Homo sapiens: one gene and its partners. The protein of the gene in region 1 purifies or fractionates together with the protein of each later gene. This does not show direct contact. Each region holds a gene or a part of one and is shown in the gene's direction. Other genes may lie near its edges. The genes, in order: LILRB4, MKLN1, ATP2B4 and CD47.

The links.
Region 2: the proteins of LILRB4 (region 1) and MKLN1 purify together in Homo sapiens (affinity purification with mass spectrometry; 2 studies listed by BioGRID and IntAct, with this or other methods). This does not show direct contact.
Region 3: the proteins of LILRB4 (region 1) and ATP2B4 purify together in Homo sapiens (co-immunoprecipitation; 3 studies listed by BioGRID and IntAct, with this or other methods). This does not show direct contact.
Region 4: the proteins of LILRB4 (region 1) and CD47 purify together in Homo sapiens (co-immunoprecipitation; 3 studies listed by BioGRID and IntAct, with this or other methods). This does not show direct contact.

What each region holds. Positions count from the first base shown.
Region 1 is NC_000019.10:54,658,204-54,665,985, forward strand, and holds the start of LILRB4 (leukocyte immunoglobulin-like receptor subfamily B member 4 isoform 1 precursor), read left to right. Parts: upstream 1-4,781; 5' UTR 4,782-4,830; coding exon 4,831-4,864; intron 4,865-5,328; coding exon 5,329-5,364; intron 5,365-5,550; coding exon 5,551-5,835; intron 5,836-5,982; coding exon 5,983-6,282; intron 6,283-6,595; coding exon 6,596-6,646; intron 6,647-6,926; coding exon 6,927-6,977; coding exon of another isoform or gene 6,978-6,985; exon of another isoform or gene 6,986-7,004; intron 7,005-7,611; coding exon 7,612-7,728; intron 7,729-7,782. UniProt on the Homo sapiens protein: Inhibitory receptor involved in the down-regulation of the immune response and the development of immune tolerance. Receptor for FN1. Receptor for apolipoprotein APOE. Receptor for ALCAM/CD166.
Region 2 is NC_000007.14:131,491,876-131,497,155, forward strand, and holds the end of MKLN1 (muskelin), read left to right. Parts: 3' UTR 1-4,757; downstream 4,758-5,280. UniProt on the Homo sapiens protein: Component of the CTLH E3 ubiquitin-protein ligase complex that selectively accepts ubiquitin from UBE2H and mediates ubiquitination and subsequent proteasomal degradation of the transcription factor HBP1.
Region 3 is NC_000001.11:203,622,073-203,629,843, forward strand, and holds the start of ATP2B4 (plasma membrane calcium-transporting ATPase 4), read left to right. Parts: upstream 1-4,759; 5' UTR 4,760-5,147; intron 5,148-5,864; exon of another isoform or gene 5,865-6,009; intron 6,010-7,771. UniProt on the Homo sapiens protein: Calcium/calmodulin-regulated and magnesium-dependent enzyme that catalyzes the hydrolysis of ATP coupled with the transport of calcium out of the cell. By regulating sperm cell calcium homeostasis, may play a role in sperm motility.
Region 4 is NC_000003.12:108,088,009-108,095,760, reverse strand, and holds the start of CD47 (leukocyte surface antigen CD47 isoform 1 precursor), read left to right. Parts: upstream 1-4,729; 5' UTR 4,730-4,852; coding exon 4,853-4,898; intron 4,899-7,752. UniProt on the Homo sapiens protein: Adhesive protein that mediates cell-to-cell interactions. Acts as a receptor for thrombospondin THBS1 and as modulator of integrin signaling through the activation of heterotrimeric G proteins.

The sequences.
Region 1 (7,782 bases):
TCAGATGCTTTGCATACTTGTTAATGGAATTATCTGGGGATTTTTTGTTGAGGTGTGTTTCTTCTAGGCCTAATTTGTTGATAGTTTTAATGATGAAGGGATGTTGAATTTTGTCAAATGTTTTTTTAACATCTATTGTGATGATCATATAATTTTTTTTTTTTTTTTTAGACAGAGGGTCTCTCCTTCACCCAGGCAGGAGTGCAGTGGCGCGATCTTGGCTCACTGCAACTTCCACCTCCTGGGTTCAAGAGATTCTCCTGTCTCAGCCTCCCGAGTAGCTGGACTACCGGTGCACACCACCACACCCAGTTAATATTTTGCATTTTTGAGAGAGATGGGGTTTCATCATGTTGGCCAGGCTGATCTCGATCTCCTGACCTCAAGTGATCCACCCATCTCAATCTCCCAAAGTGCTGGGATTGCAGGCATGAACCACCGCGCCTGCCCATGATTATATGTTTTTTGTTCTTCCTTCTGTTGACATGAGATATCATATCTATTGATTTGAGAATGTTGAAATATCCTCCCTTCTGGCTGCTGTGTGGACTGCGAGCTCTCCTACCCTCCATGGTCTTCCAATCCCACTGTCCCCAGGCCAACTGCTCCCAGACTATGCAGTAGTCTCATGTGCATGGAGCAGTTGCAATTGATCCTGGTGGTGACAGAGGGGTTGGTGTTTCAGGCATGGCACAGTCAGAGGAGGTCCCAAGGAGAGACCAAGAGGTAAACTTAAGTAGAGCTGCACCCCTTCCTTGGCATCTGTAGAACCCTGGATAAAATCAAATACGCCAACCCAAATGCCCATCAATGATAGACTGGATAAAGAAAATGTGGCACATATACACCATGGAATACTATGCAGCCACAAAAAAGGATGAGTTCATGTCCTTTGCAGGGACACAGATGAAGCTGAAAACCATCATTCTCTGCAAACTAACACGAGAACAGAAAACCAAACATCACGTGTCCTCACTCATAGGTGGGAGTTGAGCAATGAGAACACATGGACACGAAGAGGGGAAAATCACACACCGGCACCTGTCACGGGCTGGGGGGCTGGGGGAGGGATAGCATTAGAAGAAATACCTAATATAGACAACAGGTTGATGGGTGCAGCAAAATACCATGGCACGTGTATACCTATGTAACAAACCTGCACGTTCTGCACATGTATCCCAGAACTTGAAGTATAATAATAAAAAAAAAGAAAACGAAACAATGAAACATGGGTTCTTATGAATCACAGAACACCCGTGACCCCAAGTTAAGATGGAAATTTATGATTCATTCCAACTAGGTCCTGTTTTCAGTATCTCACAAAAGCTTGACTCTAGAGTGAAATATACTTGGAAATGAATGAACGACTCTTGTGGTCTTTTTACTTCTTGTAAGGCTTTAGGATCCACCCGTTTGAATACCTATGACCAGGACCTCCTGCAATGCTTCTCTCTCCACCTCCAGGCATCCCTTCATTCAGATAATACCAATTCATCATCACCATCTGACCTCTCCTTCAGCTTCTTCACCACCCTCCATCTCAATTGCTTTCTGTTTTTCTTCTTTATTTTTTGAACTTCAACTTTTATTTTAGATACGAGGATACATGCTCAGGTTTGCTACATGGAACTATTGCACCCAGGTGGTGAGTGCAGGACCCAGTGGGTATTTCTTTTATCCTGTCCTATTGCGTTAAATCTTTCCTTCCCGGGACTGGTCCTATCTCTAAACTTTTTGCGTAGTGATTTTATCAACTTAATTTTTGCTAGGATGCTAGATTTTCTAGGAGGGGAGGTAATTTGAAATGAAGTCTGGGTTACTGTGAATCCAGTATATCTGCTTTGCTCGCCTTTATCTCTTGTGTCCTGGGATGGCCACAGGTTGACATGTTTAAATGTTTCTTAAGTGAGGATGGATAAGATTTACTGAGTGGTGAGTGCACGAATACAAAAGCAAAATGAGGCCGGGCGCGGTGGCTCACGCCTGTAATCCCAGCACTTTGGGAGGCCAAGGCGGGCAGATCACCTGAGGTCAGGAGTTCGAAACCAGCCTGGCCAACATGGTGAAACCCCATCTCTACTAAAAATACAAAAGTTAGCCGGGTGTGGTGGCAGCTGCCTGTAATCTCAGCTCTCAGCTACTCGGGAGGCTGAGTTAGGAGAATTGTTTGAACCCAGGAGGCCGAGGTTGCAGTAAGCCAAGATTGCACCACTGCACTCCAGCCTGGATGACAGAGTGTCACCCTGTCACAAAAAAAAAAAAAAAAAAGAAGCAAAATACAAGAAGTCCAGGACTGGTAAAGGCAAGGCATGTTGAGCGGTTAGAAAAGGGGTGATGACATCGAAAAACCTCCTGGCATTTCCCAGTCCTTGCCTAGCACAGGTTACTCTGAAAGCAGGACTTAAGACAAGGATATGAGCGCAGGTAACTGATTTGGGAACCAAGTTTAAGGGAATAGGGTTCCCTTATGAAAGAGAGAAGGAGAGGAATTCCTGAAATCAGCATGCATTGCGGACACCACTACAGCAGGTAATATGGACAGGTCCACACCAGGATCTCTGATAATGTGCAGACCATCATCCAGAACTTCCCGCCAAAACAGGAGATACTCGCCAATATGTGTATGGCTTTCTAGCCCCCATTTCTGGGAGTTTCTTTTTCCCCAGCCACTGTCAGACGCATCAAGCTTTGGCTGAAATAGCTTCCAATAAGGTCCTTACACACAAATGTGGAGAGACACATGGAAATCCTCGAAATGAGATACTGTCCCGTGATTCTGAGAGTGACCCAAAAGGATACGGAATGAGGTACTAAAAGCAGGTGCTTGGAAACCTGAGGGCAGTGGTGTTCATGCGTTTCCCGGCACTTTGACTTTCAGCCTCCTGCAAGCCTCTCCTTCTTTGCCTTCCTGACCGTTAGATACAATTAATTTGGGGTTTGTTTTTTCTGCTTCCTCTTTCCCCTCCCACCCTATGTTTCAGTTCTAAAGTTAGAAGGTCCTCTCATCCTTTTAAGAAGAACAGAGACAGAAAATGGTTAGTCACCATCTAGGACAGACTACAATTCCAGATCATTGCAGGACGTGCCCACTCAAATGGATGATTATTGAGAGCTGGCCACCTGAAGTGTTTTACACAGGCAGTGATCTAAGGGTTGAAGCTATCTGGCCTTTTTGCTTGCTTGTTATGTATTTATGGCTTTTTTCCTTTTCAAAATAATTTTACTAAATATTTAATTCACCAACTATATATATTTATGGGGTACAATGTGTTATAAATGTATACACTGTGGAATGATGGAATCAAGACAGTTAACATGTCCATCACTCCGCATACTAACATCTGTGAAAACATTTAAAATCTATGCTTGGCTGGGCGTGGTGGCTCATGCCTGTAACCCCAGCAACTTTGAGAGGCTGAGATGGGCGGATCACCAGAGGTCAGGAGTTCGAGACCGGCCTGGCCAACATGGTGAAACCCCATCTCTATTAAAAATACAAAAATTAGCTGTGAGTGGTGGCGGGTGCCTGTAATCCCAGCTACACAGGAGGCTAAAGCAGGAGAGTCTCCTGAACCCAGGAGGCGGAGGTTGCAGTGAGCTGAGATCACACCACAGCACTCTAGCCTGGGCGACAGAGTGAGACTGCATCTCAGAAAAGAAAAAATATATATATATATTTTGGAGCTACATCGTGCTAGCGCTGCAGAGAATGAGTTTTGTTTTGCGACACAGTTTTTAGATGTCTACCGGGCTCTGGTGGAGATGGAATGTTTGGCCTCAAGTGGGCAGGTCCCATGGGACATGAGTAGCCGACCATGACCTGGCTGCGTACTGGCCCACCAAGCATTCGACTGGCGTGCCCAGCCACTCTCCGTCATCGCAGAGAAGTGCTCTATGTGAGATTTGGTTAAAGGAGTCCCTGAAGGCCTGTGGGAGGCAGAATAGTGACCTCCCAGAGATGTCCACCTCCTGAGGCCCAGACCCTGTGAGTTGGGGAAGCTTATGTGGCAAAAGGGACTTTGCAGATGTGATTAAGTCAAGGATCTTGGGTTGGGGAGATTACCCAGGTGGGCCTGATGTAATCACAAGGGGCTGAGTAAGTGAAAGAGGAAGACAGGAGGGTCAGAGTGAGAGAAGGAGGTGAGTGCATGGAAGCAGGGGGCAGATAACGGGACTGGTGGCTTTGAGGTTGGAGGGAATGGAGAGGCAGGAATGCGGGAGCCTGCAGAGGCTTGAACAGGCGAGGGAACAGATTCTCCTTGGAGCCTCCAGGAGGACACGGCTCTGATAGCAGCTTCATTTTAGCCCAGGGAGACCCATTTTGGACTTGTGACCTCCGGGACGGTAAGTCAATAAACCTACATTATGTGAAGCCACTAAGCTTGTGGTGATTTGTTATGGCAGCAAAAGGAAGCTTTATGGTTCATCTGTACCCTGAAAATGCAGGTTTTTGGTTTTTTTTTTTTTTCACTTGTTCAATGATGTACCCCCAGTGTCAGGCGCTTTGCAAACACACGATACATACGGGTTGATGTTTGGTCAAGAGAGGAATTAAGACCAGGCAGACAGCAGGCTGGGATCAGAGAGACCCCATTTCTGTCTGAAATGTCTGCAGAGAACCTGGTGCCTGCCTCAGCCCTAGCTCTGGGGAAATGAAAGCCAGGCTGGGGTTCAAATGAGGGCAGTTTCCCTTCCTGTGGGCTGCTGATGGAACAACCCCATGACGAGAAGGACCCAGCCTCCAAGCGGCCACACCCTGTGTGTCTCTTTGTCCTGCCGGCACTGAGGACTCATCCATCTGCACAGCTGGGGCCCCTGGGAGGAGACGCCATGATCCCCACCTTCACGGCTCTGCTCTGCCTCGGTGAGATTTAAAGAGGGGGAGGGGAGACCCGAGTCTTGGAGGAAATTTGCCTCACAGCCAGGCCCTGGTTCTTTAGGAGACTCAAAAATCTCAGGGTAGCCGGGCGCGGTGGCTCACGCCTGTAATCCCAGCACTTTGGGAGGCCGAGGCGGGCGGATCACGAGGTCAGGAGATCGAGACCATCCTGGCTAACACGGTGAAACCCTGTCTCTACTAAAAATACAAAAAATTAGCCGGGGGTGGTTGCAGGCGCCTGTGGTCCCAGCCACTCGGGAGGCTGAGGCAGGAGAATGGCGTGAACCCGGGAGGCGGAGCTTGCAGTGAGCCAAGATCGCACCACCGCACTCCAGCCTGGGTGACAGCGAGACTCCGTCTCAAAAAAAAAAAAAAAAAAAAATCTCAGGGTAAAGAGAGGACCTGCTCAGGCTTCCGGGGCAAATCCCTCACAGGGAACTCTCTTCCAGGGCTGAGTCTGGGCCCCAGGACCCACATGCAGGCAGGTGAGTCTGTCCCCAGCTGTCCCAGGTCCCTCCTCCTCACTGGGACAAGGGGCCACCCATGGGCAGCTGGGGGAGGAGACAGCAGTTCTGGGTGACTGATGAGGATGACGGGGGGGTCCTGGGGCTGAGAGCTGGGATCTGAGGGCTGAGGAAGGTCTTGGGATCCAGCCTCTGATTTTCTTCCAGGGCCCCTCCCCAAACCCACCCTCTGGGCTGAGCCAGGCTCTGTGATCAGCTGGGGGAACTCTGTGACCATCTGGTGTCAGGGGACCCTGGAGGCTCGGGAGTACCGTCTGGATAAAGAGGAAAGCCCAGCACCCTGGGACAGACAGAACCCACTGGAGCCCAAGAACAAGGCCAGATTCTCCATCCCATCCATGACAGAGGACTATGCAGGGAGATACCGCTGTTACTATCGCAGCCCTGTAGGCTGGTCACAGCCCAGTGACCCCCTGGAGCTGGTGATGACAGGTGAGAGGACACTCAGGGGTCCCAGCCCCAGGCTCTGCCCTCAGGAAGGGGGTCAGCTCTCAGGGGCATCTCCCTCTCACAGCCCAGCCCTGGGGATGATGTGGGAGGTGGGAGCCCCATTTAACACGGTGCCTCCTTCTCTCCTAGGAGCCTACAGTAAACCCACCCTTTCAGCCCTGCCGAGTCCTCTTGTGACCTCAGGAAAGAGCGTGACCCTGCTGTGTCAGTCACGGAGCCCAATGGACACTTTTCTTCTGATCAAGGAGCGGGCAGCCCATCCCCTACTGCATCTGAGATCAGAGCACGGAGCTCAGCAGCACCAGGCTGAATTCCCCATGAGTCCTGTGACCTCAGTGCACGGGGGGACCTACAGGTGCTTCAGCTCACACGGCTTCTCCCACTACCTGCTGTCACACCCCAGTGACCCCCTGGAGCTCATAGTCTCAGGTGAGGCTCCTGACCCTGTCCTCTCTGAGCTCAGTGGCTCCGTTCATGCCCTGCTGCCAGGAGAGCTCTGGGCAGGGATGGAGGGAGAGGGGCTCAGCCAGTGGGGGACTCAGCCCTCAGAGGGGAGGAGGACAACAGGGGCCCTCCCAGGCATGCCCATGCTCTTCTCCCTCACCTAGGGTCCAGAAGGTGCCAGGTGGACAGAGAAATGGTCCTTGGGAAGCTGCAGGGCAGATATAGGGAGAGGTTCAATTTGATGTGGAGACCCAAGGGCAACCCCAGACTCTCACCCTCCTCTTGTCCTTCTACCCAGGATCCTTGGAGGGTCCCAGGCCCTCACCCACAAGGTCCGTCTCAACAGCTGGTGAGTCTCAGAGGCCTCTGTCCAGAGAGTTTCCAAAGCCCGAGGCCTGTCTCAAGACATGCTCAGTGGATCTAAGTCCTCGTTCCAATTCTCAGCTGGGCTTGCTTCCACGGGTGTGGGAGTCGGGCAGCGACTTGGGAGGCACCACAGGCTCCCAAGGCCCTGAGGCTGGGCTGGTGAGGGGTGAGGGGGTCAAGGCTGAAGGAGATGTTGCGGGGAGAAGCCGAGCTGATGTGGGGAGCAGGGCAGCCCCAGCCCTCACATCCCTGTTCTAACCCAGCAGGCCCTGAGGACCAGCCCCTCATGCCTACAGGGTCAGTCCCCCACAGTGGTGAGTGAGGGGCTCTGAGTGGGAGGTGGGCAGGGTCTAGGGGAGCCAAGGGTGGGTTCTGTCCTAGGTTAAGGCTCCTCTGGAGGTGGTGATGTGGACAGGCCCCTCCCCTGCATGGGCCTCAGTTTCTCCAAGTGTAAAGGAGAGAGGCCTGCGGGTGGGAAAGTTCCTTTCAGCTCTGACTCCCAGCTGTGCCCTCCTGGGAGAGGAGGCCTCCCAGGGAACCTCCCAGACCCGATTCCGCAGGGGCCTGTCCGGTCCCACCTGCAGCAGAGACGGTGACCTGGGGCAGGGGAGGGGAGCAGGGCGGTGGTTCAAGACAGTCAGGCTCTTTCCCTGCAACTCTGGGGCTTGGCTCTGGTGCAGGAACAAGGGCTGCAGCTCAGACTCCCGGGTTTCCTTCCCAGCTCTGCCGCTTCCTGGCTGGAGGGGTCTGGGGCAGGCGATTCCCCTCTCTGAGCCTCAGTTTGTGCATCTGTGAAATGGGTGGAGAGAGGGTGGCAATCTCAGGTTGCACAACTGCTGTGAGGGTTGGAGGTAATGAAAGAAAGACCCAGCACACACAGTAGGTGCACACACAGTAGGTGTGCACATCAATGACATCATCCCCATTCCTGATGTCATCACGCCCAAGGTCTGAGAAGGCACTGGGAGGTACTGATCGGGGTCTTGGTGGTCTCCATCCTGCTTCTCTCCCTCCTCCTCTTCCTCCTCCTCCAACACTGGCGTCAGGGAAAACACAGGACATTGGGTAAGTAGGAAATTGGGGGACCCGTGGGCTGATGGAGGGTGGGCTCAGGGCACC
Region 2 (5,280 bases), on another chromosome or scaffold:
CCTAGATTTTCTGTGGCATTCTGTAGGACATTGTATTGCTTGGAAAAAAAAAGATCAAAATCATTCTGGGGCAAATGCTCTATTATCCTTATTTATGACAAGAGAATAATGAAATTCATAAGAAATTAATAACATTCAGATATTGCTATAAATGTACTTGAGTCATTTTCATTTGGGGATAGTAATAATGGCTGTGGCAGCTTTAATGGAGAAACCTGTGTTGGCCTCTTTTTCTGGCATTAGGATCTCTTGTCATAGAACTATTGGTAAAGTACAGGTTTGATAGCAGAGTTCCTGAATTCAGCATATCATCAGAATTTCCATTTACCTTTTGTCTTTTCTTTTTATTGTATTTTTTAACCTTTTTGTTTCTATTCCTACCTCCCATGAGTAACATTGATTTCTGCTGAAGTTAGAATTTGTGTTAAGAATTGACTTTAAACTTCTGAAATAGTTGAATATTAGAAGTGGCTTCAGTTGCCATGAAATGATTGCTTTTCTTTTTCTTTTTTTTTCCTTAAATAAAAATAATGCAGCCTTATATATGTCTCTTCCCCTCAAGAATGTGAATTTAGGCTGGGCATAGTGACTCACGCCTGTAATCCCAGACCTTTGGGAGGCTGACACGGGAAGATTGCTTGAGCCCAGGAATTTCAGACCAGCCTGGGCAACACAGGAAGACTCCATCTCTACTTAAAATATTTTTGTTTTTTAGCCAGGTGTGGTGGTATGTGCCTGTAGTCCCAGCTACTTGGGAGGCTGAGGTGGGAGGATCACTTGAACCCAGGAGTTTGGGGTGCAGTGAGCTATGATTGCGACACTGCACTCCAGCCTGGGCAACAGAGCAAGACCCTGTCTCAAAAAAAAAAAAAAAAAAAGAATGTGAATTTAGCTCCAATTCCAAATGACTAACTCTTAGGCCAGTCATAGCCAATGAAATCATCTGACGGTAGCTTCTGTAGCCCTTAACCTAAGGAGTCATTAGAGGTTATAGTAAATTAGTTTCTCTAGTGGTGCAGAGAGAAATGCCATCGGGGAAATTATCACTGTCTTTTTGGCTAAAGTTTTATATTGTGAACTGGATCCCACTTAACAGCTTAAAAACACAAAAATGAAAGGGTAGTCCTAGTTTATCTTCTTAATTAGAATCATTATTTGGAAATAAGATTTGCAATGTGCTGTCTATCCCCAAACACTGCTGAGCTTGCTGGAAAACAGAATTTAACATGAATGTTGTCTGAAAGCTGTAGGATCAATGGCAAAAAAGGGGAAATGTTTGGTAGGGAATTGGACCAGTTCTAAGGTATCACTTTTAATTATAAAATAATGTCTTCCTTTTTATCTGCTTTTCAGACAGCCTCAGTGAACTATTAAACATTTGTGTGCAAAGTCCTATTTTGCTTATCTAAGGCATTTTGACTTGGAAGTATTAAACTTCAGGAACGAGCTAGAGAAGACAATGAGGGTATGTTAGAGAAGGAAAAATAGGAGCTTTTTGCTTATGGATTTTAGAGGTCCACAAATCGAAAGGAAAAATAAATTTCTTCATTTCTAACCCTAAAATAATTTTGTTAATGAGATGCTGGGAAGAAGACTACCAAAAGGCCTCAAAGCTCATGCTTCTAGAATATTCAGTAATTCTGAATAGTCTTTGGGAAGTAGCATTTCTTGGGAAGTAGCATTTCCCTTCTTCCAAATAACTGTTTGAGATCTTAAAACAGAAAATCCAGTGTTAATGGGCTCTAGATCTTAAACTAGGTGAGCAGCTTCTTACATACAACCAGTTCCTTGTTAAGGATCCAGCAGGAAAACCAGCCATAAAACATTTCAACATGCAGTTTGGGGGCTCCCTTGCTTATTCACTGAGTTTAAGCTCTTGCTGCAACATAGCTCTGTACCATCTGGGATGCTAGCAGTCACAGCAGTTAGCTCAGATATCTGAGCTGTCTGCCACACAAAGCCTGAGGAGATCATCATTCTTCAGTTTCATTCATTACTTAATGAATGCCAAATTAATTGGCAGGAAGAAGAAACACTGTGTGATATACTGAACAAGCCTGTGTGCATGAATAAGGAGCCACTCAAAAAGCCAATTTTGAGCTTTATTTCTCCGTTGTTAACAAATCTCAAGAAAGCCTTTGTTACAGTTTAGCTCATGTCATTTGGTTGGTTTTATTTTCTAGCCCTTTAACATAGGAGGAAAATTGTCATTTCATGTATAACTTGTAACACAGAATTGAACTGATACTAGTTTCCTTGCCTTAAATTAATTATATGTCATCCCAAGGGTCTCTGTTAATTCTGCTTTGCCAAGCAATAATGAGATCTGGGTTTGGCATTAGAAGTATTTCATAATTTTGGTTTTTTATTTAGGTTTCCTCCACATCTGTAAAGTGATTGATTAAATTAGAGGAGGCGTGTAGAATAAATCCCAATCCCATTGCAACTGGCAGAGCTTTATAAATCTTTATAAATTCAGTTACAACAAAGGAGAGGATCCTACACCATTAGAGCCATGCCATCAGGTGTTTGCAAGTGACAGCTGTAGTGTGTTGCCTCAAATAATACCAAGTTATAAATAATACCAAGTAATTATCAACTCACTCCCAAATTTAATAAGATATCAAAGTCCAAAAGGTTACTTAGGAGTAGTCTTCCGTGGGGGAAGATAAATTTATTAAAGAGTCATGTACTGATCTTTTTCTTGGGATTTTTTTTCCTTTCCCAGAAAAAAAAATTATTTTGGTGACTGATCAATTGTAAACAATTTTCTTCCTTACTTACAAATCATCCGTTCAGAAAAATAAAAGTGGACTTCCTTTCCTAAGCATTACAATTAGCCTGGGCAAGAGGTGTTATGATTGTCTTATTCTTTAAGCCGGCTTACTTTTTGGATTTGTGTGAAATGTCTTTTGAAAAGAAAGTAGATAGTATAGTATTAATTAACTACTTTGTATAGTCTTCTGCATAATTTAGAGTTGAAAATAATGTAACATTTTCCTGTGAACAGATTCCTTTATGCGTACATACTTTATAAATATACATACATACACATACACATACATTTTTAAAATGCTCTTTTTAAAGAGATTCTTATCTTGCTCCCACTCCAAAAGCTATGTACAGTTGAGTTATTAGCCTCAGAGGAAGAGTACAGGAAAGCGAAGATGAGGACCTCCTTTTCTTGTGTTGGTCTTGGGAACAAACAGTATTCCGTCTTTCAAATATGGCATATTTCTAAACAGTTTGGGAAAGATGTTAGAATTTTTTAAAAGTCAGCTCTTTTATAAATTGGAAGTACTCAGTAGTCAGAAATTAAGATCCCCTCTGATAGAGATAGATTCTCAAAACCAAAATTGGACTGAAAATTAGATTGAGAAGAAAGATACAACTTCCTCCATAGCCAATAAAATCTGTCTTTCCAAGTCTGCTTATTAATGCTGTGAATCGCTCCTTCTGTTTGTGAAAACATCTCCTGGACTGGAAATGTGGTGCTGTAACCAGCTGAGCCGAAAGTTGGAGAATGTTAAATATCTTATATGGGACTTACGATAAAATGTATTGATGTTAGTGATTGTCAAAATAGGTTTATCATTTAAAAAACTAGGAAATTACTAAGTATAAAGAAGAAAAACCAGTATTAATTAAGTGATGAGACCTGTTCATTTTGTTTTCCCTGACTTATTTCCATTACCAAACATAGTAAAGGCCAGAAAAGATTAAAAAAAAAATTAACACAGCCATTCCATTGTTTTTTACCACATGGAGAAAGGACCAGGCTGGAAGCATATGTCCCCCCACCCTTATTTATATTCCTTTGAGCATTGCCGTTTTCTAGACAGACAATCCGAAAATAATTGTGTTGATAGGTCTGTTTAAGCCTGAACTCTGGGTGTAAAATGTTATCCAGAAGCTATAGGGAGCTGCCTTGCTCAGGTCATTGGAAATTTCAACCCTAAGACTCATTGGAATTTCTAAGTCCGTTATGCACCATTATGGGCATATGGAGCATATTCATACCATGAGGAGGAGTCTTTGTTTATGATGGACTTTTTAATATGGCCATAATTAAACTCACACTCAAAAAGGATGAGCTATTGTCAAAAGCCAAAAGAAAAACAGACAAAATGAACATGAAGCAAGGAGTCCATAAAACAAGAGTTCTTTACCACGTTTAAGCAAATGTCTCTCAAAAAAAATTGTATTTCTGTGCACATTAGCTGAGATTCACACATTTTGCACCTCAGTAGTATTTCAGATGAGACTCAATGTGTGGAGAAAACCGCTAACTTGTTTGGTTCTACTCTTACCCCCTCTTCTGTGGCAATGTGGGGTCAGGGCCGTATCCTAAAGTATCCACATGGTCTTAAATGGAAATCATGGGACTCTGGAAAGCTGGCATGAGCTGGTTGGAGCTTTTAAACAGAAGTGCTTTATGGGTATCAGATCTCTTCTGACATCAATTGTTTCAAATCATTGTTGGGCTCTGTCGTGTTCTGCAATCTTCCCCATTCCCCTCATGATCTCTGGCTTATCTTTTATCCAATCTGTATGGACTTTTTAGGATTTTTTTTTTCTTATAGTACAAATAATTTTCAGATCCCAGCTTTGGTAAATGTGTTAATTCTACTTTGTGAATAAATAAATGAGTGATCTGCTAAAAATGGCAATTGTAGAATTATGTTGTATGTAATGTACATATGGAGAAAGAATGTATTTTGTTCATTTTCTTAATAAAATGTTATATATGGATGCTACAAGATATCTCTTGTATTTGCTCAAACTACTTTTGAAGTGAACTTTTAAAATGTTTTTGTACTTTACAGTTGTGTTTTTTCCCCCAGAAAGGTGAGTTTTATTTAGGCTTCCAAAAGGAAAGTGATACGCTTTCGAAGGGCCTTTGGGTGTTTTCCTTTGAGACGGTGCTCAGATGAACAAGTACCGGCCATGCTCACAAAGTTTCTGCGGGGAGGCTTCCACTTATTTAAAGACCACTGGTAAATTATTTCATGAAATGTTCTTCTATCTACTGTTAATGACCACCCTTATTTTATTTGCTTTGTCCACTTGGACTTATGTTCCTCTTTAAAGGGGATATGCTTGTACAGGCTGGAACTAGAAGGAAAGACTGAACTGAAATGGAAAATTCACTGTAGAAAAGATAGTAAAGGGAGAGAACCTAGAAGTGTTGCAGTTTGGGAAAATTCTGGATCCCTGTCCCCATTAAAGGGGAAAGACACTTTATGGGCCAAATCTTGAAAAAACTAAGCTGAGAAATAT
Region 3 (7,771 bases), on another chromosome or scaffold:
GTCAGGTGGGGTTAGGACTGCTAATAAAATGTCAGTTTCAATTGTTGTTTTTTGTTTTGTTTTGTTTTGTTTTGAGATGGAGTCTCACTCTGTCACCCAAGCTGGAGTACAGTGGCACGATCTCAGCTCACTGCAACCTCAGCCTCTGGGGTTCAAGTGATTCTCGGGCCTCAGCCTCCTGAGTACCTGGAATTACAGGCATGCCCAGTGATTTTTTTTTGTATTTTTATTTATGTATTTATTTACTGATACAGAGTCTCACTCTGTCACCCAGGCTGGAGTACAGTGGTGCAATCTCAGCTCACTGCAACCTCCATCACCTGGTTTCAAGCGATTCTCCTGCCTCAGTCTCCCGAGTAGCTGGGACTACAGGCGCGCACCACCGTGCCAGCTAAGTTTTGTATTTTTGGTAGAGACGGGGTTTCACCATGTTGCCCAGGCTGGTCTTGAACTCCTGACCTCAAGTGATCCAACCACCTCGGCCTCTCAAAGTGCTGGGATTACAGGCATGAGCCACCATGCCTGGCCCAGTTTCCATCTTAACAGTGAGAAGAAAGGACGTCCCAAAGAACTGGGTTCGGGCATGGGGAAAATGGCTGCTGTTCTAGCCAAGGCAAAATGGTAGATATTCACAACAGGGAGTCATGCAGTCTGCATTCGGGGGAGGTACAGGAAATGGTGAGGAAGATTTGGAAAACTCAAGGTGGAGTCATCAAGAGGCAGAGGAACACATTCTGTTAAACACCTAAGTGAGAGACAGTGCTGACTGCATTTTCCTCAAGTGAGAGATGGGGTAGGGACAGGGTCCACAGTGATGTAAGCCCTGTAGAGACTGACCTGCTATGGGGAGTTCAGGAGGCTGAGGAGAGCCAGGCTAGATCTAAAGAACAGGAACCTGTAAAGTCAAGAGTACAGCAGGGAGAAGAGGGAAACAGGACTGCTCAGAGCTGAGCAGAACAGGCAGACTATGAACTTCTGATGCCAGAGGCAGTGTCCTCCTTCTTGCCCCAGGGGGGCCAACTCCATTTTCCCACATCTAGTGGTTATTTTTATGGATAGATTTATTTTTACCCGTTCTAGACCTCAAACCTGCCGCTGCAAGAAGCGAAGCACTGAGGCTTCTAGCTTTCCAGAAAACACAGGCCTCAGTGGTCAGCTCAGTGACAGAGATCAGGCTATGGTCCCCTCGGCTCCTCTGGGGTCACATTGACCCACCCCCCGACATCCCTCCCTCCTGTCTGCAGCAGAGCTGGGGTGGGAATGGAGTGGGAGGGGGATTCCTTTTTTCTCATCCCACAACCCCACAGCCGGTCAAGGGGAGGATCTACAGCCACCCTGGAAGTCATAAACCTGGCCTGCCCCTGAATCCTAGCCAGCCAGATGTGGGACAGCCATCAGAGCCTCTTTTGACAGCACCTCCCTGGCAGAGCCTGTCTCCCTGGAATCCAGGGAGCTTGAGGGGAAGATCTTACCTTTCCAATAATAACCAGCTATGAAAGGGTATCATTTCCCAGTCCCCACAAAACAGGCAGCCAAAGCAGACTTCTTCTTTATTGGGACCATACATCTGGCCTAAATTGTCATTCCCCCAAGACAAGTTTACTGAACAGTTAGGCAATGCCTCCACACACAGCCACTGCAGACGAGCTTAAAATATACTTTAATACATTTAAACAGTCATTTCAGAGACTGGCTTTCTTATGATAAAGATGCAACTGACACTCATTGGTGCTAAAATGTCATGTTGTTGCCATCCAGCAGGGAGCCTGACAAGCCATTAAATCTGCAGCTCTGTTAAGCTGATTCATTTCTTTTCCTTTCTTTCTCATGTCTTCCCCAACAATTGATTTGGGCTCCTGAAGCTGATATTTTGCTAGGGTCTACCAAAATCTAACAAGGGTGCTGTGCATTGTAGGGTGTGCCCGTAGTCCCAGTTTCTAGGAAGGCTGAGGCGAGAGGATCACTTGAGGTCAGGAGTTTAAAAGCAACTTGGGCAACACAGGGAGACCCATAATGAAAAAAAAGAAGGAAGGAAGAAGGAAGGAAGGAAGGAAAGGGAGGAGGGAAGGGAGGGAGGAAGGAAGAGAGGAAGGAAGGACGGAAAAAAGGAAGAGAAAAAGAAAGAAAGAGAAAGAAAGAGAGAAAGAAAGAAAGAAAGAAGGAAGGAAGGAAGGAAGGAAGGAAAGAAAGAAAGAAAGAAAGAAAGAAAGAAAGAAAGAAAGAAAGAAAGAAAGAAAGAAAGAAAGAGGGAGGGAGGAAGGAAGGAAGGTAGAGGGAGGGAAGGAAGGAAGGGAGATGGAAGGAAGGAAGGGGAAAGAAAGGGAGAAAGGAAGGGAAGGGAAGGGAAGGGGAGGGAAAAGGAGGGAAGGGGAGGGAAAAAGGAGGGAAGGGAAGAGGGAGGGAAGGGAAGAGGGAGGGAATGGAAGAGGGAGGGAAGAGGGAGGGAGGAAGGAAGGAATCTAACAAGGTACTAACTGTTCTTGAAATGCCCTGGGAAGGTGGGAGTGACTAGAGGAGTTGCAAGAGGCTGAAATGAGAACAAAGGTCACCTTTAGTGTCCTGTAAGTGCCTTGAGTGTCAGACAGTCAATCACTAGACAAAAAAGACCAAACAATCCATAGTTCCCATAGAGGGTGACCCTAAAATCTCCCCTTACCCCTGCAACTTTCTTCGGCTGCTGGCAGGGAGAGGCACAAGCACAGGCAGGGGCTTATTTTTTTTCTCTTGTTTTTAATTTTTTTGTAGAGATGGGGTGGGTCTTGCTATGTTGCCCAGGCTGGTCTTGAAATCTGGCCCCAAGTGATCCTCCCTCCTCAGCCTCCCAAAGTACTGGAATTACACGGATGAGCCACTGTGCCTAGCCAGGGCTTATTTTGGATTTTGTTTTCAGATGACAGCAGGCAATCTCCAGCCTCACATTGATGAACTCTGAGTTCTGAGCCCAGCCCAACCAGTCTAAAAACATTACTGGCCGGGTGCGGGGGCTCACGCCTGTAATCCCAGCACTTTGGGAGGCCGAGGCGGGCAGATCATGAGGTCAGGAGATCGAGACCATTCTGGCTAACATGGTGAAACCCCGTCTCTACTAAAAATACAAAAACAAAATTAGCCGGGCGTGGTGGCAGGGGCCTGTAGTCCCAGCTACTCGGGAGGCTGAGGCAGGAGAATGGCGTGAACCCCGGAGGCGGAGCTTGCAGTGAGCCGAGATCACGCCACTGCACTCCAGCCTGGGCAACAGAGCAAGACTCCGTCTCAAAAAAAAAAAAAAAAACCATAAAGAAAAAAGAAATAGCAGGGTAAGAAAATGAAGAGGAAAAAGAGGACCCAAATGAGAGAACATTGGGAAGGGTGCTAGTTGGACACGGGGGAAACTGGACCCCGTTTCACAACCCTGTTTCTCCATGCACATGTGGCTCTGCTTCTTGGGGGCAGAGATGACAGCAAAGAAGGACAGGGGGTGGTGTGAGCTGTTGGGTTAGAATGATAGGATCAAAGAGGCCTTTTCCCAACCCTCTGTTTAAAAGGTTGGGAAGTAGTGGCCAGTCACCTTCTTCACAGCATAGCTCATAGCTATAACCTGTGAGACATATGTCAATGTGCCTTCCATAAGCATATAAACATGAGTGTGTTTGCTGAGGTAGGTGTGGGAATCTGTCAGTCAATGAAGATATGTTGTGTGAACCAGCTGATGGTGCATGTTTGTGCTTGAAAGCCATAAAGTTCTATGCAAAATCTATGGGTGGCACTGTTGCACAATGCTAGTGGGTGTGTGGGTATGGGGGTGTGATTAACTGTTTACAGGCTGTGTATAAGTGTGCATGGATGTCTGAGTGTGTGCAAATTAAAACGGAAATATGTGCCGGAGTATGATACAAAGTACAGGAAAGTACTCGGGCTTTGGAGTCTGTCTGACTTGGTCTTGAATCGTTGGCTCTGTCATTAGCCGGATGTATAACCTTGGGCCAGACACTCAATCTTCAATTCCCTCAACTAGGAAATGAGGTTAATAATAAGTACCTTTCAAGATTAAATGAGGACTAGAAACGATACCATATAGACAAAGCTTTTGGTGTCATAGCCCACGCATAGCAGGACTCAAAAGTAAGCAGCTATTTTCATGCACTGTCAGTATACCTCTGGTGGGTACAGGGACAAGAGGGAACAAAATGTGACCTGTATATAAGGTGTAGGGGAGGACGGGTGTGTGTGTGTGTGTGTGTGTGTGTGTGTGTGTGTGTGTGTGTGTGTTTACAAAACAATTTATTCTCCTTCTCCAAGGAACCCCCTATTCAGACAGGAGCAGGAAGGTAGGAGGGGACATACAAGTGTCCACAGACACCTCGGGTTTCTGGGTCCTGGATCTAAGTGAGTAAGGGGTTGAGAGGCCCGTAGGAGCTGCAGGAAGCCAGCCGCCTGCCCAAGCTTCCTTTTTTTTCCCCTCCGCCCAGCAACCGTTGAATACCGCCACCCACATCCACTCCCCACCTCCACCCTCACCCCTCCTCCACCCCTACTCAGCTTTCTATTCAACAAGTGAGAGCAAGGGCGGGGAAGAAAGCCGACAGGGGAGAGGATTGCTTCCCTTTCTTTTCCCATTCCCCCTTAAGACGAACCAGGAAGTAACCGCAAGAATCGGGCCACCTTAACAGTAGAGTAATGGTTTGGCCTCGCGCCAAGTCCCACCTCTGTTCCAGCTCCTGCTCCTCCCCTCTCTCTTCCCGCACTGCTTGGGGAGAGCTGGTGAGCAAGAGTCTGGCCCGAGTTAGCTAGAGCTGTTGCCATGACAAGCATTTTCTTAAGAAAGCTCTGCTGTTGAGATCGTCCAAAGCTGGGGGCTGGGAGGGGGGGCACGAACTTCGTGGGGCACCATCCCTCCGAAGAGAGCAAGATCAGAGACACCCGCCCAGCTCTCCTGCACCCTTTTTCTTTCAGGAACCTGAGAGGTCCTTCCCATTGGAGGGGCAGGGGGAGGAGACCCAGCCCACTCCCCGGCCTTAGCCAGAAAGGCAAGAGAGCAAAGCCAGCGTCTCTAGCTTGGTTGCCACACTGGGGAGACTGGTGGGTGGTCACCCCACCCTACCCTCATCCATGGAAACCCGGAGGGAGAGTCCCGCCTGAAGAAACCTGGATCTTTGCTAGAAAGAGAGGTAGGCTTGCAGAGAATGAATTGACTTGTGATTTGCAAACTTTGTTTCTTTCTTTTCTCTCAATGGCTTCTAAAACTCCCCGATTTTCCTCTTTCTAGAATATTTCATGCGACTGGGTTTGGAGGATTTTTTTTAAAATATGTGTGTGTGCACAGATTTGTCAAATACTGTTTTACCTATTATCAGTTCTGAGAAACCATATAGTCGAACAAGTGATTTATCTCTCTTTTCCTAGTTCTTGTCATTCCTGGGCTATGGGGTAGGGTAATGGAGGGTTCTCTTTTTGACACCAAAATTGAGCTCTTGGAAAAAATATTTATCTCCCCTCCCTCAACCCATTCCGTTCCTGCCCTCCCCTTCCCCCCTTGGCTTGGGAATGAGACGCAGGATGGAAAACTGTTGCAAAAATATTTTCCGTGTCTGTTCCCTTTCTCGAAAGCCCAAAAGAGAGATGGAAAAAAAAAAAAAAAAGGAACCAAAGAAATCTTCAGCAGAAAGAGGGGCTGCAGCGGGAACTAGGAGAGGGGCACTTTGGGGCCATGGGGTGGAGGTGGGCTGGGAGAAGTTGGCAGGAGTGGGGAAGGAGAGTGCACGAATTAAATTTCTTTAGCTTTGCAGAGAAACCTCAGCAGTTTCTCTGTGCTGCTTGCAAAACATCCTCAGACTTTCACATGTATAATTAGCTGTGGAAAAAGCTGGGAGTTACCTCGTACCGCTGTTGTTTGAGTGTGTGTGAGCGTCCAGAACCAACTGTATGAGTGTCTCCGAGGGCACCGCCCCACACATCTCTGGTCCCAAAGGGGAGGAAGGAGAAGGGTGAATTGAAAAGTTTCCGATGTCGAGGCTGGACACTGTGGGGCTGGTGAGTGTTTGGCAGATGGGGTGGGCCACAGGCATCTGTGGAAGGATCCCTGAGCGTCTCGGGCCACTGCCTTGGCTTGCTGAAGAGCTAGGAATTAAGACTGGGATTGTCCTTCCTGCTCTCCCTTCTCTCTTTCTTTTACATACTTGGCTCGCTCTTGGTAGAGGGGGCTGCTGGCATCCTTCCCCGAGTCGAGTCTGGCCTCTTACACTCCTCCACCTCCCTGAGGGTACCCGCCGCTCTTCTCCAACTGGGTGTGGAGGGTGCAGGAGTGGCCAGCCGCATCTTGGGAGGGGAGTGGGCACTCTGCTGCCAGAGGCACGTCCCTCCTGGGCATTCCTGCCGGACTTAACAATAACTTGCAGACGTGATGCCGGCGCCTGCTGGCCGGGCAGGGGGAATGTCAGATGAAGAAATAGGCCGGTACTCAACTGAGGCCCCTGTGGAGAGGGGAAAGGAGTGGGGGAGGGAAGGGAAACAAAATCCCATTCTGCAGCGCCCCCCTCCTCTGTGTGAGGAGTCTGGCAGGGAGTCTAGAGACCCTGGCCCTGCTCCTTAAGCCCCTCCCCAAGCTGCCCCTTCTCCACGCGCTTCCCATTGGAGGCCCTACTACGCCCCCTCCACTCTGAGCCCTCTACCTGGAGGAAGGAGACCAGGCTCATTCCAGGCTGGGCCAGGCCCAGGAAAGCAGCCTGGGAGTGACGAGGGGCTGGGCCAGGAGTGTTTAGGAAGAAGGGGAGTGGAAGAGGCCTCCTAGCCCATGTGCTGAGTTACCCTCCTTGGCTGAGGGTGGTGGCTTGGGGAGCAGACTCTGGGAGGGGCAGGAAGGATGGTGGCAGCTTGGTAAGGCGTGTTCTGGAAGGTGGGCCCTAAACCCTGAAGCAGACAAATCTGTGGGAATCAGGCTGGGGGAGAGGAAACACCTGCCTTCAGCCCCAGGGCTTGGAGGAGTGGTAAAGGCTACAGCTGAGACACTGCGGGAGAAGGAAGTAAAACACTTAGAGGAGAGCTCATCTCGGGGCTGGGGATGCAACAGGAACGATTTGATTTTCACTTTGAGGTGTTGATTGATCTGACTGCACCCCTCGGCTAGACAGCTCTTCCCTACCTGTGTTCTGCTCGAGAAGGGAATGAGGCCTTCCCCAGTGGGCAGGGCCCCCAAGACAGAATTAATGCCCGTGTTCTGGAGGGAGGGGATCCATTTCTATACTCCTCCTCGGGAGTCCCATCCTCCCTGCCACCATCTTGCTGAGGTGCAACCTCGAAAATCACGCCGCTTTCGCCGCGGCCTCCCATCGTGGAGGCTCAGAGTGCAGCTATTCCTGCAGCCGGCCTTCCTATTTTCAGTAATCTGATTAGGGGTCGATGTTGGTGGGCTCGGGGACGGCTTCTCCGTGAGGTCGTTATTTAGCGCGCACCGGGTCGCCTGAGCCCGGGGTCGCGGCCAAAGGGGTAATCGGCTCCCGCAGTCTCAGCCCTTCCCCCGGGGCTCGGGGCAGGATTGACTGCGCAACCCTGCGGCCCCTGTGCTCTCCGCGGCCTCTGCGACCCCGCCCCGCCAGCCTCTCCGCCGCTGGGCTCCACCCTCCCGGGCTCTGCTGTAGTCTGAGAACTCCGTGGAGAATGCGAACCGAGCGGCGAACGGAGGCTTCCTGCCTCCCAGGTTGTGCCGAGCCTCAGACCCTTCTCCCTTCCATTTACCACCAAGTCTCTAGATTCAAGGTCAAGTCAAAGGAGCACAGCCCGTCTTACCCCTGGGACT
Region 4 (7,752 bases), on another chromosome or scaffold:
GTTAATTTTAGGTATTAACTTGACTGGATTAAGAGATGGGTGCTAAATCATTATTTCTGAGTGTGTCTATGAGGGTATTTCCAGAGGATATTGGCATGTGAGTTCGTGGACTGAGTTGGGGAGATCCTCCTTCAATGTGGGTGGGCACCATCTAACCGGCTGGGGGTCTGGATAGAGTGAAAAGGCAGAGGAAAGGCTCTCTTGCTCTCTCTCCTGGAGCTGAGACACCCTTCTCGTCCTGTCCTTGGCCATCAGAACTCTAGGTTCTCCAGCCTTTGAACTCTGAGACTTGCACCAGTGGCCTCCTGGCTTCTTAGGTCTTCAGCCTTAGAGTGAGAGGTGCACCAAGGGCTTCCCTGGTTCTGAGGCCCTCCAGTTTGGACAACCATGCTACTGGCATCCCTGTGTCTCCAGGCTTACAGATGGTCTATCGAGGAACGTCTCAGCCTCTTTAATCACATGAGCCAATCCACCTATCTCTCTATCCTATTAGTTCTGTCTCTCTAGAGAACCCTAATACAGACATGCAAATATACTCAGGACAAATTTCATTTTCTCCAAGCTAATGTGATAGAAGAGGAAACTATTATGTAGAAACAAATATCTACTGACACATTTTGTTAGCAGTATGAACAAAGCATCATGGGAGAGATAACTAGACCTATGAAATGATGGAGAATCATGGCAAAGAGGAAAAGTAGGGTTGAGAAAGGCTTCTTGGAGGAAGTGATATTTGATCTTGGCCTTGAAGAATGAGCTAGAATTCTCTGAGTTGAGGAGCAAAGAAGAAAACATGAGGGAGCATTATGAGAAGCAGAGCAAACAGCGTAATTGAAGCACAAAAGCCTGAAAGTAGCATAGTCCAGGCATGGAATAATCCAGTGTTGCTAGTGTTGCCTGACCATGCAACAGATGTTAGTTTGCATTCCATTGGCCAGAAGTATTAACAAGTGAAGAATCTTAATTACAAAAAAAAGCACATATTCAGAGACACTAAGAAGAAAGAGATAATACTCTGAAACTACAACCAGCTGATGACTGATAAGTCAAAATTAGGAATTTAATGATGCTAAGAACCTCTAATATGTCAGGTCAGCTCCAAGGTTAGTTCAATAGTTTCATTCACATATGTTGGCCAGGCACGGTGGCTCACGCCTGTAATCCCAGCACTTTGGGAGGCCAAGGCGGGTGGATCATGAGGTCAGGAGATCGAGACCATCCTGGCTAACACGGTGAAACCCCATCTCTACTAAAAATACAAAAAATTAGCCGTGCGTAGTGGCGGGCACCTGTAGTCCCAGCTACTCGGGAGGCTGAGGCAGGAGAATGGCGTGAACCTGGGAGGCGGAGCTTGCAGTGAGCCGAGATCATGCCACTGCACTCCAGCCTGGGCGACAGAGCGAGACTCTGCCTCAAAACAAACAAACAAACAAAAAATAAAAGATAAAACATATGTTTACACAACACCCTTTTATGCTAGGTGCTTTGTCAGACACTGATTGAAGATATGGTTCCTGACCCTGAGAGGTTTATTTACTCATTCAGTCATTCATTTATTCACTCATTCTATTTATTCTTTTAACAACGATTTGTTGAGTACATACTATGTGTCAGGCAAAGGGGCTAGCAGTAAAGAAGACTCATATGGTCCCTCCCCTCATTGAGCTTACAGTATAGGAAACAGTTATTACTGAACACGAAGACAGCTATATAAACATAATTTCAATAAAAGATGGTAACTGATATGCACCAAAGTAAGACTAAAACACAGAGAAGTGCACTTAACTTATACTGGCATTATCATGGGCCTTGATTTACTGTGGGATCCTTTGCTGTTATGTTCCCTTACGTTGAAAGATGCATCTGGCCCTACACAAAGCACAGACTATGAGTAGGTAGGCACATACAGTTCTAAGCCAACCCCTTGGGGCACCAGGAGACAGCACTGTCTCATGTCGTTGCATGACACACCACCATGGGGCAAAACATTTGCTGAATGAAGTTACAATAAGGATACAATTGTATCTACATAAACATTTAAAGATACTATCATATCAATACCTACTATGTGGCAGGATCTTGATGTTGTGTGGGGAGGAAGATAAAAGTAGATGTATCGTTGAGACAGAAATGAGGGCAAGGGAAATTTTTTATGCATTGAGAGAGGAAGTTTGTGAATTTTTTCGCTGGCCATGGAGTCAGGGAGACTTCAGTCCAACCACCGTCCCTCCCTGAGCTTGTGACCAAGCCTCACTTTCCTTATCTATAAAGGTGACAAGAGTGATTTTTTTAAGTTTATTTATCTGTAAAGGGGAAACTGTAGCAACTTTGCTATTATAGGGTAAAAAGAAAAAAGGATGAAAACCAGAACAAGGGAGAGAGACAAGAGAGAGAGCAGTGTCACTTATAACTGTGGGCAAAGTGCTCACCATTCCTCTTTCCCTTTGTTTCCTCATCTCAAAAAGGGAGATCATAACATTTATCCTTTCTGAGGTTGTTATGAAGATTAACTTAGGTGATATAGCTAATGTGTACTTCCTGTGTTCAAAACATTCTAATATGTATTATCCCCTCCCTCTCTACCCAAGAAACTCCTTACATACAGATAAGATGAGCTCAACATCCAAATTAAAATGCTTTGAAAAGTTAAAAGGCAAACCTTTAAAATGATTAAATACTGAAAAGAGCTTAAGGTTATCTCAGAGAGAGGATAATCAAACCTAGGCAGGCTGCTTTGGACTGTCTCTCCTGGGATATGCCTGCTTTTGCCCCACCACCAAAACATACCCCAGCTAGATTCCCAAGAGCAGCAGTGGTCACCCAGGTGGCCTCTCATTCCATTTTCTGCACAAAAAGACGTTAAGCATATAGCTCAGTAGCTCCCAGTGTAAAACAGAACATCACCCGATCTCCACCTCTGAAGGTTGGGGACAGTCCTTTCTAGTCACTCTTCAGCTTTAGGGGGGTTGGTTGGTATCAGGGACAGCTGACAGCCTTATTTAGCCAACCAGCTGCTCTGTGATACACAATGTCCCTAATGCTCAAAGTCTGGTGGATGATTCTTTTGTATCCACATAAGCAGCAGTTGGAGGAGAATCGATGAGTCCCTTTGGTTGCCTCGGGGTGTCAAGGCTGCCATTCAAATCATTACCACCATAATTATTAACCATTGTTTTAGTGAGATGTCTGCCAGGCAATTGTTTTTATTTTTCAATCATTAAAAAAGCAATCAAATTTCACTAGAGCAATGCCTGCCTCACGCCGCATCAACACATTTATTAAACCCCTTCTGTTTGCCGAGCTCAATGGAAAGTCTTGGAGGAGGGAATACTTAAAATGCTCTCGGATTTAAAAGAATTGATAATGCTGTGGGGAAGAGGTTCACACAAAAAAGCAATTACAGGAAGAAGCTCGATAGTATACAATACACTGGTACAGAGTGTCATAGACAGTGCCACTTTCATACGCTGGATTTTATTTCTGTGGCAATGGGATGCTTGGGAGGAGCCGCACTGTGTAGAGGATTTGGAGAAGTGGGGTATTGTGGTGGGAAATTGCTTTCTTTCCCAGGAGGTAGGAGGAAAACAATCAAGGAGGTGGACAGGATGTGCACTCCATTAGAGCAGCCACCAGAGCCTGACTTTTTGATAAGAGAGTACATCAGTTAGGATAACGGTTAAAAGTATCTTTAAAAGACTTTTGCTTCAGGATGAATGATGTGGCCTGTGTGATTCAGCGATAAATTCAAAAGCCTTGTCCCTATTGTGGCTTGCGGCCACATTTCGAACCCATTTTTCAAGCATGTTAAACCCAAGCGCAGCGCAGAGGGCTGCACATGGGGCAGTCACAAACCAAGCTCAATAACCTTGCTGGTGGGGATGTGTTGGATACGCTGCTAATGCCTGTTTGCGACAATGCTCGCTAGTCCCGGTGGTGGCGGTGTTCACAGGTAACAATGTTTACCACCGTGAATGGAACTTGTTTGATTAACCCTGATCAGAGGATGAAAACACTAAAGAACCAAGTGAGAAAGAGGGAAGAGAACCGCATAGGGAAGAGCAGAGCGAGTAGACGAGCCGAACGCAGAGCCCGCGAGGGGCGAGTGGAAGCTCCCTGCGGGCAGGTACCCGACCACCGCCCTGCCCTGGGCGTGGCGGCCTCGGGCTCAGGGACCGCTTCGGCGCTAGACGGCCGCGTCCGGAGGAAACGGGCGCTGGTGAAAGCCTAGGTGTCCTGGTCCACGCGCGCAGCCGGACGTCGGGTCCAGGGAGAGACGCGGGCTGGGGCGGGACGGGACCCGGCCCCTGAAGCGCGAGGGTGGGAGTGAAAGCAAAGAGGAGAAAAGTAGAGAGAGAGGACAGTGGGGCCCAGCGCCGCGCGAAAGGCAGGAACCGACCCGCGGACAGGAACGGGTGCAATGAGGTCCCCGGCGAGCGTGGGAACACAGGGTTCAGCCTCCTGCGGCGGGCGAGCACGCGGACCCCAGGGGCGGGCGGGTGCGACAGGACGTGACCTGGAAGCGCGGCGCGTGCCACCGCCCTGGAGCAGGCATCCGGCCTCCGTGGAGCGGGCAGGCGGGCCCCGGGTCTGGAGCCTGCGACTGGGGAGGGCGCCGCGTCAACAGCAGCGGTTGCGGGGCGGGGCCGAGTGCGCGTGCGCGGCTCTCGCGGGCGGGGAGCAGGCGGGGGAGCGGGCGGGAAGCAGTGGGAGCGCGCGTGCGCGCGGCCGTGCAGCCTGGGCAGTGGGTCCTGCCTGTGACGCGCGGCGGCGGTCGGTCCTGCCTGTAACGGCGGCGGCGGCTGCTGCTCCGGACACCTGCGGCGGCGGCGGCGACCCCGCGGCGGGCGCGGAGATGTGGCCCCTGGTAGCGGCGCTGTTGCTGGGCTCGGCGTGCTGCGGTGAGTGGCTCCTCGCTCCCAGCCCTGCGGCTGCTGTCGCTTCGCCCCCGCGGGCGTGTGGGCTGCGCCCCAGCCAGCCCGGCGGCGCCCTGAAGAGGGTGGCCGGGGCGCAGAACACTCGGGCCCTGAGCGCCCGAAGTGCAGACGTGGGAGGGCCCCACGGGGAATCGGGCGCCCCCCTTCTTCCTCCCTTCCTTTCCCTGGTCGTCTTCTTCCCCCTGGGTGAGAGCGGGGCTCATCTCCTCCACCCGGTTCTCCATCTCCAAATGCACACACACAGGAAGACTCCAAACCGCGCACCTCGCGCAAAAATTAACTAGCAAGAAAGGGCGCGATCAGAGGCAAGGGGCTGCAGCTGCTAGGGATCCCCTTCTTTCGCACCCCTCTCCCTTCTCAGTGCTTAGACGCATTTGGGGTTGAGGGAGGGAGAGTGGGAGGGCCCGGGCCTCTTGCGATGGAAGTGCGCATTTTGGCGAAGTCGGTGAGAAGGGGTTTCTGCCGTTTGCCTCCCACATGAACATAGGAGCGAAGAGGACGTAAAGGACACAATTAAGTTTCATTTTCAACTCAGCATTCAATCAGAAGAATCTTCCGGCCGTGTAATTTTTGCTGTCGTTTTTAATCCTAAAAATAAGCTTGCTGGAAACTCTTCCTTTCTCGTGACCCTCACGCCCCATCAGCCACTTGCATACATTCTAAATTGTACGTTGAAGTTTTTCCCACTTTATTTGGGGGAACCGTTTTAAAAGTAATCTGGTTTTCGCCTGAAATAGGAAGACAGTAACCTCCAGTCAAAACATGTGCAGCAGAATGGGATTTGGTGTTTTTCGACGCCAAAGAACCTCCACCCCCCCACCCCCACCCCGAGCTTTTGGAATCCATTTCGCTTTTGTAAAACGTGTGCTTCGTCTGTAAAAACTGAGCAAGGAATAGAAACATTCGTAGCTCTACAGTGAGTGCCTGTCACACTTCACATCCATAGAGCCTTTTGTGAACTTTTATAAGATTCAGAATTCAGCTTGAGCACCAGTGACAGCAATTGTTACATTTATTCTAGAATGCTAAATTAATTCGATTTTAAACTGATTATTAGCCTCGGTGTGCCGTTCCTAAAGGCTTGTGACTTTAGGTATTTCCAAGATGCCCTTAAGTCTCTGCTTACCACTTTCCTCCCTCCCCGAGCATCCTGGATGTTGGGACTGTGAATCCAGGTCTCCGTTATCTAAATGGTTGATGTTAGTGTTTCCTGTCATCACGTTTAGTATGCTTGTTGCCTTTACTATCATTATAGCTAAAATAATACTGCTTTCAGAGATGTGTTGTATAATCGCATAATAATTTCAGAACGCCTTCATATTGAACCAGATATGAAGTGATACAGTATCATTTATTCAAACTGCCTAAAAAGTAAAAAGTATAAACCATATACTATTTTTAAAACAGGTAGGTTAGATTTAAATCACGTAGTTTAGAACTGTTGGAATGGTACTTTGAGTGATAGGATTTATGTTAGGCCTTCTTTAGTAATAGTTAATATCATGTAATTAGCACTCGTTTACACACAATTTTAATGTGTTCGAATCCCTAGAGTCATCGAATTCAGAATTTATAGTATTTTATTTTACTTAGTTAATATTAACCTAAAAAAAAAGCAAAATACAGGCATTATGCAGTTGAGTTGTGTTAAGTGTGGACTGTAAAACAGGATAGTATTTGTTATAAAATATGTTTTTGTATGTGTTTAATATATAGCTTCAAAAGGACATGTATGAAGAAAGATGTCTCAGCACATAGGTAGTTATAAACCAAGGGTTTGAGAGACTGACTTTAGAATCTAGAATGAGTAAGAAAGTGATGGATCTGTACATTCATTTGTATTGAAGTTTGATTTTGCTTTCAGTTTCGTTAATTAAGCCCCGGGAATCAGGGACCTTTCCTGGCACCCTCTACAGTGTTAGTGGCCTTTGTGGTAAAAGAAGTTATCTCAGATACTCATTTCATGCAATTACAGGCAAACTGGAAGGCACCTTAATGGTATGCAAGATGTGAAATGAATTACTATGTTGCATTCCACTCTGCCCCCACTCATGTACAATTATACTTTGTTTAAAAGTGCATAGTTTCAGTGGTATTTATTAGCTAGCAAATAAAACTTTAAATAAATAATGATGGTGTTGTGAACTGTCTTTTCAGTGGTTGAATGATTCCTCTTTGTTCAAAATGAGTTGTTTTTTTTTTTAAATCAGGGTACATATGATTAAATAAAATTTTTTTCCATCGTCTAAGTCTAGTAGTAATTTGGCTTGTTTAAATAAAAATGTTTTCTCTTAAAGAATATATTATTTTTAATTACAAGTTGCCATTTTAAGGAAGTAAATGCCTATTTAAAAGTACGTATTTATGGGGCCGCCCCAGCAGTCTAGAGGCAGTGTTTTTTAAAGCATTACACTAAATGCCTACCATTAGGACACTTGCTCATGCTGTCATCTGTGTTTTGGCAGATGTTTTATCTTTGTCACTGAGTTGTTCATGGAGATTTGAAAGGCCAAGTTCTAAAGATGAGAGATAGATGACTTTCCCCCCAAATTGATACATATTCTAAATCCAAAATAATCACGCATATTCGCAAAACTAGATTTGCATTTCATAGTATGAATTCAGCTATAGCTAGTATATAGGCATTGCTTTTAATATAGTAATGTTCTTTTTGTGGCATAATTTTCAATCACTTTCCCTGTCTTAGGTTTCTGCCTACCTTTTTATACAAGATAAACATTTCTATTTTCATATCTTATCTCTCAGTCTGATTTTAATAATATCGTCTTGGGTTATCATAAAGTTACTTTCACTTTGT